3 linked regions of the Homo sapiens genome follow. The protein of the gene in region 1 purifies or fractionates together with the protein of each later gene. This does not show direct contact. Each region holds a gene or a part of one and is shown in the gene's direction. Other genes may lie near its edges. The genes, in order: KITLG, SLC67A1 and PIGU.

Region 1 (3,746 bases):
CTTGTGAGACTGAGGCGGGATAATCGCTTAAACCTGGGAGGCGGAGGCTGCATTGAGCCGAGATTGCGTCATTGCACTTCAGCCTGGGAGACAGAGCGAGATTCCATCTAAAAAATAAAAAATAAAAATAAATCTTGAAGAAAAAAAAAACAATCATTTGCTATGCCTCCAGTATCCAAATTAAGCTCATTTTGATATTTGATGTTCGATATATTTGTACTAAGAGTACCTAATGTATAAAAATCTTTCTAAGCAACTATCAACTTGGAATCATGATTGATGTGCTGTCTATACATATTTTTTCTAACATGAGAAAGTGAGAACGCAGTCCCCCACTAAATTATGCAGTCGAGTTTCCCACATTTGGGGAAATCACAGAAGTCAGCACATCTGGAGTGAAATAAACAAGCTTCGCCCTGATTACAGGTTTGGCATATTCATGTTTAACAAACGCACCGGAACTAATTAAAGCAAATTTGGACTCCTACTCTATTATTAAAATAACTAATTCCTAAACTCATACATTATTCTTTCTTTTAAAGATCACTGATGTTAATGTTCAGCTAATATTTTCTTTTAAAAAATTAATGAAATGCTTTGGAATGTTCTCCAGTTATACAAACAAAAACAGACACATTCTGGAGAATCAATAAAATATTTGAAGTATTTTTTAAGACTGTACAGCTGGAGCTCCAGGTTTAAATTAGAGCTCTGCCATTTACTAGATATGGTTGGTCAAGAAAATTAACCTTGTATTTCATCGTCCATAAAATGGGAATAAAATAATAAGATCTACACTAATAGATTTGATGAAAGAATTTAATGAGATAATCTATGCGAAGTTCTTAGTCTGGCACCTGGCACATGAATAAGTGCATCACATAATGATGTTAGCTATTATTATTGTGGTTGCATTATCTTTCCGTTCAAAAAAGTACAACTTTCAAAGCCTTGCTGTGTTGGCGACCTGTAGTTTAATAATCTATCGCTTCTCTTTCAATCTTAATTTCTAAAGACACAGTAACAAACCATTCCAAATGAAGCGTCTCCCCTTGCAATACTTAACCTTGAGTCAACAATTCTTGTAATTATTAAATATTCATTCACTAAAGTAATTGTTTTTTTTAAAAAATAGAGGTGATAGGACAATGGCCTAACTACAGATCGCAATTAAACTTTATTTCTCTAAGGCAGGCAGGGTGAATTCTTTGCTCCGAACCTCCCGGACTCCTCTCCCTCTCCGACTTTGTATAACAGAGGGAGCTCCGAGCCCTCTCTGGCGCGCGAGGTATTTCGTCTGTCCCCGGGGGTGCCAGGTGAGCCCCAGCGGATCCGGGAGGGTAAGCTGGGACTCCTCGCGAGCAGTAGCTGCAGGGTACCAAGCTTCGCCCTCTGCGTCCCCGCGCCTTCGCGGTCTCCCGCCAGTGCAGGTCCGGGGCCCCCAGGCGAGCGGACAAGGTTGGCCTAATCTGCCAAACTTCTGGGGCATTTACCGTGCTCTGGCCGCCCTCCCGATTCTTCCCTCCGCGCCCTTGCCTGCTTCTCGCCTACCCCGGGCTCCGGAAGGGAAGGAGGCGTGTCCGGAGCAGGCGGGCGGGAACTGTATAAAAGCGCCGGCGGCTCAGCAGCCGGGCTTCGCTCGCCGCCTCGCGCCGAGACTAGAAGCGCTGCGGGAAGCAGGGACAGTGGAGAGGGCGCTGCGCTCGGGCTACCCAATGCGTGGACTATCTGCCGCCGCTGTTCGTGCAATATGCTGGAGCTCCAGAACAGCTAAACGGAGTCGCCACACCACTGTTTGTGCTGGATCGCAGCGCTGCCTTTCCTTATGAAGAAGACACAAGTGAGTAGGGCGCGCCCGGGAGCTCCCAGGCTCTCCAGGAAAAATCGCGCCCGGTGCCCCGGGGAAGCCGGCGCTCCCTGGGACTTGCAGCTGGGGCGTGCAGGGCTGTGCCTGCCGGGTGAGACAAGAGGATGCGGGGGAGGCCGGCGTGGTGTGTGATCCCGAGCCGAGCCGGGTGAGCCAGGGAGAAAAGGAGTGGGAGTGCTGAGAGGGAGCCAGTGTCAAGTTTGGAGCCTCAGCAGTTAAGTTTTGAGCTGTCAGTCGGAAACCGTAATTCCCGTCTGGTGGAAAGATTGGCTTTTGGGCCATGGAATGTTAAGTTATCACGGGAAGGCATGTCTTTGCATAGGAGACGGTTTTCCCGTGGATTCCAGGAGATTATGAAACAGCACCCCACGCGCCACCCTCACTAGCTCTCTCACTCAGATTTATTTGTGTAGCCCCGAGGTGGGCGCCGGGCACCAGGAGCGGCGCGAACGCGGGTGCAGCCGCGGGAGCGAAGCCAACGCGGAACTCCTAAGCGGCAGCTCTCGGCGGGGCGGGAACCTGCCCGCCTGCCCGGGAAACTTGGCTCTCGGCGGTGTCTGCCTAGTTTGCAGCTCTGTGTGGGCTCTAAAGAGCTCTAGTACCTCCACAATGCACGCACCTTTTTCCATTTCAAAAGGGATAAAGGCTTTTTATAAAATAGGCACCTCTGAATGATAGTGATTGAGATAATTCCCAGTGCTGCTAAATTCTGCATTATACATAAAGCACTGTGGGTAAAGCGCTGCCTGGGGGGACAATTAGATTTTTTTTTCCCTTGAAGAAAATACCTGGTTCTTCGTTTAGAAAGGGCCGCCACGGTGCCCCTATCCACAGTTCTCTTCACCATTGTTGATTGTTACCTCCTCTCACTTTCCCCCTTAGAAATTGTTATGTGTTATCTGCCGCGGTTGGCTAAGGGTTGCCCTTTCACCCCCCAGAGGTTCTGTTGGAGATTGCAGTTCCTGAAATGTGTGGAAGGGGTGGAAGTGGTGGGGAAAAAGGAAACCGGGGTGTTTGTACACATCGTTGGTGTAGAATGAAGGCATCAATGTGCTCAAAATGCTTTATCAAATGACCTGCTTAGCATCATATTTTAAACAGATATCTAGGCCTGCAAAAAGTTGCAAGACTCTAGCCCCTTGTACCGGTGTGGTAAAAGGCAGGGGAAAGGGACATTGCCTGGCTAAAAGAGGCTTGCATAGTCTCTAGAGCACTCTCTAAGAGAAAAGACGCGATGTGCCTCTCCCCTCTCTTACAAGCAGGTTAGCTTTCAGGCAAGGCATTGAGCACCGCACCTGGAATCACCACAGCGTGCTGTCGAAATGCAAATGTTAAAGATTCTTGCAACAAAAGAAAAGTTTTATTGTAATCTCTTGATTTAGACAAGCTTTCTGCGAAATTATAAGAAGGGTAGAGACCTATTCCTTCTTATAGTAGCATCTGCTCCCATGGATGGTGGTGAGATCTGGGGGAAGAAGCTGCTACCTTCTAGTTCAGGAAAAGAGCCTAAACCTTCCTATTTAAACAAGAACACAGGAGACAGATAAGGTTAATGTCCAACACTCCAAAGCCAGGGGATGTACTATCAAGTCACTTTGAGAGGCAGTAGGATTGATTATCCTTGCACCCTTGCTTTGCAAAACAAATGTGAGCTCTGTAATCTCCTTTCTCGCTTTGATTAAATGGCTGTGTAAATCGGATTACATGGAATAATTCCATTGAAAACTAGAAAGAGGTCAATCTAGTCTGAAACATTGTGACTGTGGCATTAGTGACTCAGTGCTGCCGACCAGAGAAATTTGAGAAAGCTAAGTATTTTAGATATGTGACCTGTTCGGTCACACATCACACAAGTTAAAGTGCAGGCCCTTTGGGGGAA
Region 2 (3,380 bases), on another chromosome or scaffold:
CCCTCCCTGAACCAGTCACCAGCCAGGGCCCAGACACCCTGATTGGCCAGGCTGCTGAGGCGGGAGGGAGGTGGGCGCCAAGGTCGGGGTGTGGGGGTACTCACCCCTGTTCCCCTGCCCCGGCTCAGGGCTCTTCATGGTCATGTTCTCCATCATCTCCATGGACTTCTTCCAGCTGGAGGCCGCCCAAGCTGGCTACCTCATGTCCTTCTTCGGGCTCCTCCAGATGGTGAGTGGGCACACAGGGCCTGCTGGGGGGCACGGCAGGGGTCTCCAGTGGGGCAGGCCTCTGAGAGTAGAGGCTCCTCCCCGGCGGAGGCTGGGGAGCCCTTGGCCTCCCATCTGGCACATGTCAGGGTCCACAGGGAACCAGGCATACAGGCCAGGGAGGGAGAGCCAACTGCAGTGGTGGGCACGCTGTGAGGACAGTGGACTCCGGCCTCTGATGGGCAGCTGGCTGGGATCTGTGGCAGCCCACCTGCCCACCAGCTGTGTGACCAGAGCAAGTCTCCCAAACTCTCCAAATCTGTCCCATGAGGCCAAAGTGCCCGCCTTGCAGGGTCCTTGGCAGATGAGATGACCTAACGTGGCAAAGTGGTTAGACCAGCGTGGGCCCCTTTGGAGGTCCCATAGGAGCAAGACGCCAGCCCTCAGAGGCCACGCTGTCATGGTAGGATAAGACGCCAGCCCTCAGAGGCCACACTGTCATGGAAGGATGCCCTGAAACCCTGGCAGCTCCGATGCGGCAGGTGTCTGTCTGCCAGCCCCCCAGAACCGCTCAGCTCCCGGGCCGGGGCGAGACACCTCCACCACCAGCTCCTCTGGGCTTCTGGACCAGACCCTGGGTGGTGGGGACAGGTGATGATTTGCCACCACCCAGGATGGCTGCCTGACAGCCAGAGTGCGGGGCGGGGGGGCTATTCTGGGACCCGCCAGGGTGGGGGTGGGGGCTCTCGGCCTCTCCGGAAGCCTGTGGCATTCCTGGCACCTCCAAGCCATCTGCTCTTCAGCCTCTGGGCCCAGGACTAGACTAGTGCTAAAATAGCTGCTCCTGGGAGGGGCTGGACCCCCACCGTGGGCAGAGAGGGCCTCTGCTTTTTGGGGCAGGAGGGGCCACCCTGGCAGGGTAAAAAGAGATAAACAGAAAAACAACAGCAACAATAATAGTAACAATCCGGGGTTGTTGCCATGGGGCCTGTTCTGAACAGGCTGCGCCCAGCTCACTGCGAGGAAGGACGCTTAGCCAGGCCCTGGCTGAAGCCTGCAGCTGGGCTGGACACAGCAGTCATTGGCCTGTGTTGTGGGGGACTTGGGCCTGCCATGGCTGCAGTGGGGACCCTGCCTGAGACAGACAGAGCTGGGGTGGTGACCAACACCGTCGGGGCACCCTCGCAGGAACTGGGCCTGGTGAACTGCCCAGGGACGGGGAAGGAGCAGGGTGAGGCATGGGGACCCCGACACAGGTTGAGCAGCGGGAGAGGAGGCTGAGGAGGGGAAGGAGGGGGCCCGCAGAGTAGCCCCCAGACCCCAAGTCCGGTCAGGGACAAGCTTGTTAGCTCCAGGTTCATGTCACAACCTGCAGGGCTCCTAAGTTCAAGCTTTTTTAAACTTAATGGGCAAACTGAGACGCAACACAAATAGGCTTCTGACCTTGGTGTCTGAGTCCTGGATCTGAAGTCCTTCACGGCACTCACTGTGAGCCCCTCTTAGACGCACTGCACGAAGTGAGCTTGCCAGCTCTTCCTTTAAGAAACGTGTTAGGCCGGGCGCGGTGGCTCACGCCTGTAATCCCAGCACTTTGGGAGACCGAGGCGGGCGGATCCCAAGGTCAGGAGATTGAGACCATCCTGGCGAACATGGTGAAACCCCGTCTCTACCAAAAATACAAAAAAAAAAAAAAAAATTAGCCGGGCCTGGTGGCAGGCACCTGTAGTCCCAGCTACTCGGGAGGCTGACGCAGGAGAATGGCGTGAACCCGGGAGGCGGAGCTTGCAGTGAGCCGAGATCGCGCCACTGCAGTCCACGCTGGGCGACAGAGCGAGACGCCATCTCAAAAAAAAAAAAAAAAAAGGTGTTAAAATCCCAAAAAACCCTAAGATAAAGCAAGTGTGAAAGTAAGATTTTTAAACCATTTATGGTTCCGGTTGGAAGCAGTTTCTGTTCTGCCTGGCAGGAATTTGGGAGGGTGACTGGTCCCCTGCAGAGGTGCTGCAGGCTGGGCCTGCCCTGTGGGCAGATACTGAGCCCAGGGGCTCCTCCAGCCGGGGCCACCCCTGCACTCCCAGGCGCGTTGGCCCAGCACGCCCTGCTTAGTGGAGGAGCTGAGATGACCAGATAGAGAGCCTCGCCCTGGCCTGGGAGCAGCCTGCGGCCAAGCCTGTCCCACCGAGCCCATCCCCGGGAGCAGCCTGCGGCCGAGCCTGTCCCACCGAGCCCATCCCCGGGAGCAGCCTGCGGCCGAGCCTGTCCCACCGAGCCCATCCCCGGGAGCAGCCTGCGGCCGAGCCTGTCCCACCGAGCCCATCCCCGGGAGCAGCCTGCGGCCGAGCCTGTCCCACCGAGCCCATCCCCGGGAGCAGCCTGCGGCCGAGCCTGTCCCACCGAGCCCATCCCCGGGAGCAGCCTGCGGCCGAGCCTGTCCCACCGAGCCCATCCCCGGTGTCCCTGGTGTGGGCCTTTCCTTCCTCCCTTGTGGAGAGGAGCCCCGACTCCTCAGGGATCTCAGACCCATCCTGACGCAGTCACTGCTGGCGGAGTAGGGAGAGACCCCGGGGCTTGCAGATGCTGAGGGGCCTTCTCTGCAGAGGGGCCCTGGCCACCACAGGCCAGTCTGGAGGTCCCCAGCTTTGGGGGCTGGCCACAGTCCAGACGCCCCTCCCTCGCCTCCCCCATACCCACTTCTACCCTCTCTGTCTGGCTCTAGGTGACCCAGGGCCTGGTCATCGGGCAGCTGAGCAGCCACTTCTCGGAGGAGGTGCTGCTCCGGGCCAGCGTGCTGGTCTTCATCGTGGTGGGCCTGGCCATGGTGAGGGCTCCCCGCTTTGGGCCCACTCACCTGACCCTCTCACTGGGCAAGGCCACCTGGGCGGTACCATCTGTGCTTAAGCCCTTGGGGACTCCTCCAGCCCCCCACACCCACCCGGGGCCAGCTCTTCAGCAGGGACAGCAGTCAGGGTGGGGAGGGACAGGTAAGACCCCAGAGAGGAGCCTGGTCCCGTGAGGCCCCCACTCAGCTCGGCCCCCGCCTGCCGTCCCAGGCCTGGATGTCCAGCGTCTTCCACTTCTGCCTCCTGGTGCCCGGCCTGGTGTTCAGCCTCTGCACCCTCAACGTGGTCACCGACAGCATGCTGATCAAGGCTGTCTCCACCTCGGACACAGGT
Region 3 (3,646 bases), on another chromosome or scaffold:
TTTTTTTTTCTTTTTGAGACAGGGTCTTGCTCTGTTGCCCAGGCTGGGGTGCAGTGGCACAGTCACAGCTCACTGCAGCCTCAACCTCTTAGGCTCAAGAGGTCCTCCCACCTCAGCCTCCCAAGTAGCTAGAACTACAGGCACACCCCCACACCTGGCTACTTTTTAAATTTTTGGTAGAGACAGGGTCTTGCTATGTTGTTACGAGCTCGAACTCCTGAGCTCAAGCCAAACTCCTGCCTCAGCCTCCCAAAGTGCTGGGATTACAGGTGTCAGCTGCCGCACCTGGCCAACCACCCACCCTTCCAAGCAGGATCTGGATCATCTGGAACCCTACTCCTCAAGCCACTGCCTATTTGCCATGAGGGGCCAGCCCTGACCCCTCCCTGTACTGCAGACCCTCAGATACTGGGCTGGCCTTGCATTGGCCATTCTCCTTTCTGTTTTGAGTGAGGCCTGAAGCCCGAGGTCTGACACCAACCTCCTGCATGCTGCCTGTCCCCTGCCTGGGACTCACTGTTCACTGCAACACAGGTGAAACCACAATCCTGTCTCCCGGAGTTGCCTCTCAGTTGGCCTGGTGTGTCATTCTGGGAAATGGGACCTATGAGGAAATGCTTGGAGACGTGTTGGGTGGGTCATTAGTGGCTGAGTGGTGTGTAGCCCCCATTTGGGGTTGGCTCGAGACCCATTTCAGGTTTCTTCCTGCCGGTTGTGTGTGGCCTGGGCTGTGCAAGATCCCAGGTCTGTGTGTGGGAAGGCTCGTTGCTCCCGATATGCGGTGCCTGTGGCCAACCTGGAGCCCTTGTCCTCATCCTGCTGGATGTGCGTGTTTACTTTGCTTTTCCCAACTAGTGTAATTCTGTCAAGGTCTTAGTTCATTCCTTTGTCCTTCCAGCACTGAGCATCCCAAGCTTGTCCCTCACAGGCCCTTCCCAGCCTATTCTCCTCCCCAACAACCAGAGTGACAGGAAGAGCCCAGGCTACATACAGCAGGACAAAGGCCACAGAAGGCCAGGGCTCTGGAAGCCCAAACTCTATAGCGACTCCAGCCCTGTCTGTCCTGGCTCGCTGGCCTCAGGCACATCCCGTAACTCCTGGGAAGCTAATTTATTTATTTGCAAATGTTAATTAGGTTCCTACTATTCACCAGGCACTCTGCGAGGGGTGAATGAGACAGAGGTGTACTTCCAAGGAGCCCTCGGTCTGTGGAGAGAAAGGAAAAGACATGGGCAGGACAGGGCAGCCTGACGAGCTGGGAGCCCAGAGCTGGGCTGTTAAGGAGGCTTCCTGGGGAAGGTGGCCTCTAAGTGGGGTCCTGAGGGATGGGTAGGATCTAACTGGGTTCTATGATTTTAGGTAGCAAGACCTGGGTGGGGGTGAAGGAGGGAGAGAGAGAGAGAGAGAGAGAGAGAGGAGGAAGGAGGGAGCAAAGGAGGAACACCGTGCTGCTGGGAGCTCAGTGGGACTGGCTGTACCACTTGAGAGGGAATGAGGGCAATTCAGACAGCAGTGGTCAGACCACAGGCCTTCAAGGGCCTCTTATGCAGAGGTCCAGACTGCACCTTTGGCTTTAAGAGCTGAGGATAAATGTGATCAGATCCATGCTCTGAAAACCTCACTGCTGGGAAGAGCAGAGGTAAGAGGTGTGAGCCTGGCATCCAGGGCACCAGGGACGAGGCTAGGGGAGGTTGAAATCTGGGGGAGGTGGTGGTGGCCTCAGTTTCCTCAAACTGGGAAGGTGGTTTTGAGGACTGAATGTGGGAAAAGTGCCATGTAAGTGAAAAGTGCCATGTAAGGGACAGTTACTTGTAGCCTCATCCTCAGTCTCACCTTGTGACCTCTCAGACCCTGACACTGAGGTCCAGAGATTTCACTTGTTACTTTGCATCTTCAGAGCTGGAGGGTGGAGTTTTCTCCTCCACCATTTCCTCCTACATAATGTCCGCTCCGGCCTGTGGGTTGCCAGGTTACGCCAAAGTGCTGTCCAGCTCCACAGTCGGCCGCCAGCCTCCTCTGCCTCCCAGCTTCCTGGATCCCAGGCAGGTGGGCAGAGGCTGCTGCACTTTGCCAACTGTGACGGCCACATGCATTCCCCCCAGCGTGGGCTGACTGTCAAATGTCAGTGTCTGTGTCCCCAACAGCAGCAGGAGGCCTGGGGAACCAGGACATGCCTGGGTGATAGCACCTGCTTCTCTAGGAATCTGCAGCCCTGGTGGTGGACAAGGCTGCTGTCCTGAGCCCAGTAGTTTCAAGACACACTGTATTAACAACCTCTACTGGCTTTTTACAAAAAAAGTCAATCTCTCTCTCTCTCCACTGAGTGACAGAGCTGTGAACTGGGGAGAGCAGACTCCGCAGGGTGTAAAGGTACCTGAGGTGTCAGCACAGGCCTGGCATGTAGCAGGACTCAGTTCATGTGGGTGCAGACCCTAGGGGGTTGTGGAAGAACTCAGGATTGGGCCTCTGACAGGCAGGACTGGCCCCTAACTCTTCACTTCCTACCATGTGACCTTTTGCAGGGCCCATAACCCCTGAGCTTCCCTTCTCTAAGTAGGCATTGTCAGCCCTACCCTGGGGGGTTGGAAAGGGACAATATTGTTTTTTTGTTAAAGGGCCTGGACCAGGGCAGACACTCAGAAGATATTCATTTCCCTGTCTCTCCATCCTGCCCTGCACTAGAGCATGTTCTGAGGGTTTCGTTCTACTTCTGATTCATCCTGTCTGTCCCTGGTCACCCCTTTATCAGCTAGCTGCCCCATGAGCTCTTCATCATGGTCCCAGAGGGAGGCGGCCCTGGAGCCCTCATGGCTGCCATAGAGAGGAATGTGGACCGAGCCGTCCCTGGGGGCAGCGCTGAGAGGGTACAGACCAGCAAACAACTCAGAGAGAGCTGGCCCTGTGCCGGGCCTGGGGCCATAGAACTGGAGCAAATGCAGCCCCATTTGGTTGGGAGGCCAGTGGGCAGTGACTTCACTTCAGGGTCCATGTAACAATGCAGGGTTAGAGAAGACTCCTGGCAGGAGATGAGCCTCTGAGGGATAGGTGGGAGCTGCAGCGCTGCTGGGCAGGGCAGGGGGAGCCAGGGAACTTCTGAGCAGGCAAGCGTGCGTGTATGTGTGTGTATCTGTGTGTGTGTGAGTGCAGTGCGAGCATGTGAGCAGTGAGAGCGTGCGTGTATGTGTGTGCATCTGTGTGTGTGAGCATGTGTGTCTAAGCATTGCAAGCTTGCATGTATGTGTGCACCTGTGTGCGTGTATGTGTACCTGTGAGTGCAATGTGAGCGTGTCTGAGCAGTGCGAGCATGTGTGTGTGCAAGCATGTGTGTCTAAGCATTGCAAGCATGCGTGTATGTGTGCACCTGTGTGTGTGCACCTGTGTGTGAGTGCAGTGCGAGCCTGTGTGAGCAGTGCAAGCGTGCATGTATGTGTGTGCACCTGTGTGTGCATGTGTGAGCAGTGTGAGTGTGCGTGTGTGTGCACCTGTGTGTGTGTGTGTGTGTGTGTGTGTCCAGAGAGGTGGCTGCAGGAAGAGAAGAGGGCAAGTCTGAGAAGGGGATTGGCAAGGCAGTATTTCAGCCACATTGGGTGGGATCCAGAGACCTGAGGACACAGAGTGACATGTTCTGGGGTCCTAACTGGCACAA

Evidence for each region.
Region 2: the proteins of KITLG (region 1) and SLC67A1 purify together in Homo sapiens (affinity purification with mass spectrometry; one large-scale study listed by BioGRID and IntAct). This does not show direct contact.
Region 3: the proteins of KITLG (region 1) and PIGU purify together in Homo sapiens (affinity purification with mass spectrometry, with the first as the bait; one large-scale study listed by BioGRID). This does not show direct contact.

Annotation. Positions count from the first base shown.
Region 1 is NC_000012.12:88,578,358-88,582,103, reverse strand, and holds the start of KITLG (kit ligand isoform b precursor), read left to right. Parts: upstream 1-1,632; 5' UTR 1,633-1,825; coding exon 1,826-1,840; intron 1,841-3,746. UniProt on the Homo sapiens protein: Ligand for the receptor-type protein-tyrosine kinase KIT. Plays an essential role in the regulation of cell survival and proliferation, hematopoiesis, stem cell maintenance, gametogenesis, mast cell development, migration and function, and in melanogenesis.
Region 2 is NC_000011.10:2,919,179-2,922,558, forward strand, and holds part of SLC67A1 (solute carrier family 67 member A1), read left to right. Parts: intron 1-128; coding exon 129-229; intron 230-538; coding exon of another isoform or gene 539-580; exon of another isoform or gene 581-2,612; intron 2,613-2,923; coding exon 2,924-3,025; intron 3,026-3,257; coding exon 3,258-3,378; intron 3,379-3,380. UniProt on the Homo sapiens protein: May act as a transporter of organic cations based on a proton efflux antiport mechanism. May play a role in the transport of chloroquine and quinidine-related compounds in kidney. Plays a role in the regulation of lipid metabolism.
Region 3 is NC_000020.11:34,565,573-34,569,218, reverse strand, and holds part of PIGU (GPI-anchor transamidase component PIGU), read left to right. Parts: intron 1-3,646. UniProt on the Homo sapiens protein: Component of the glycosylphosphatidylinositol-anchor (GPI-anchor) transamidase (GPI-T) complex that catalyzes the formation of the linkage between a proprotein and a GPI-anchor and participates in GPI anchored protein biosynthesis.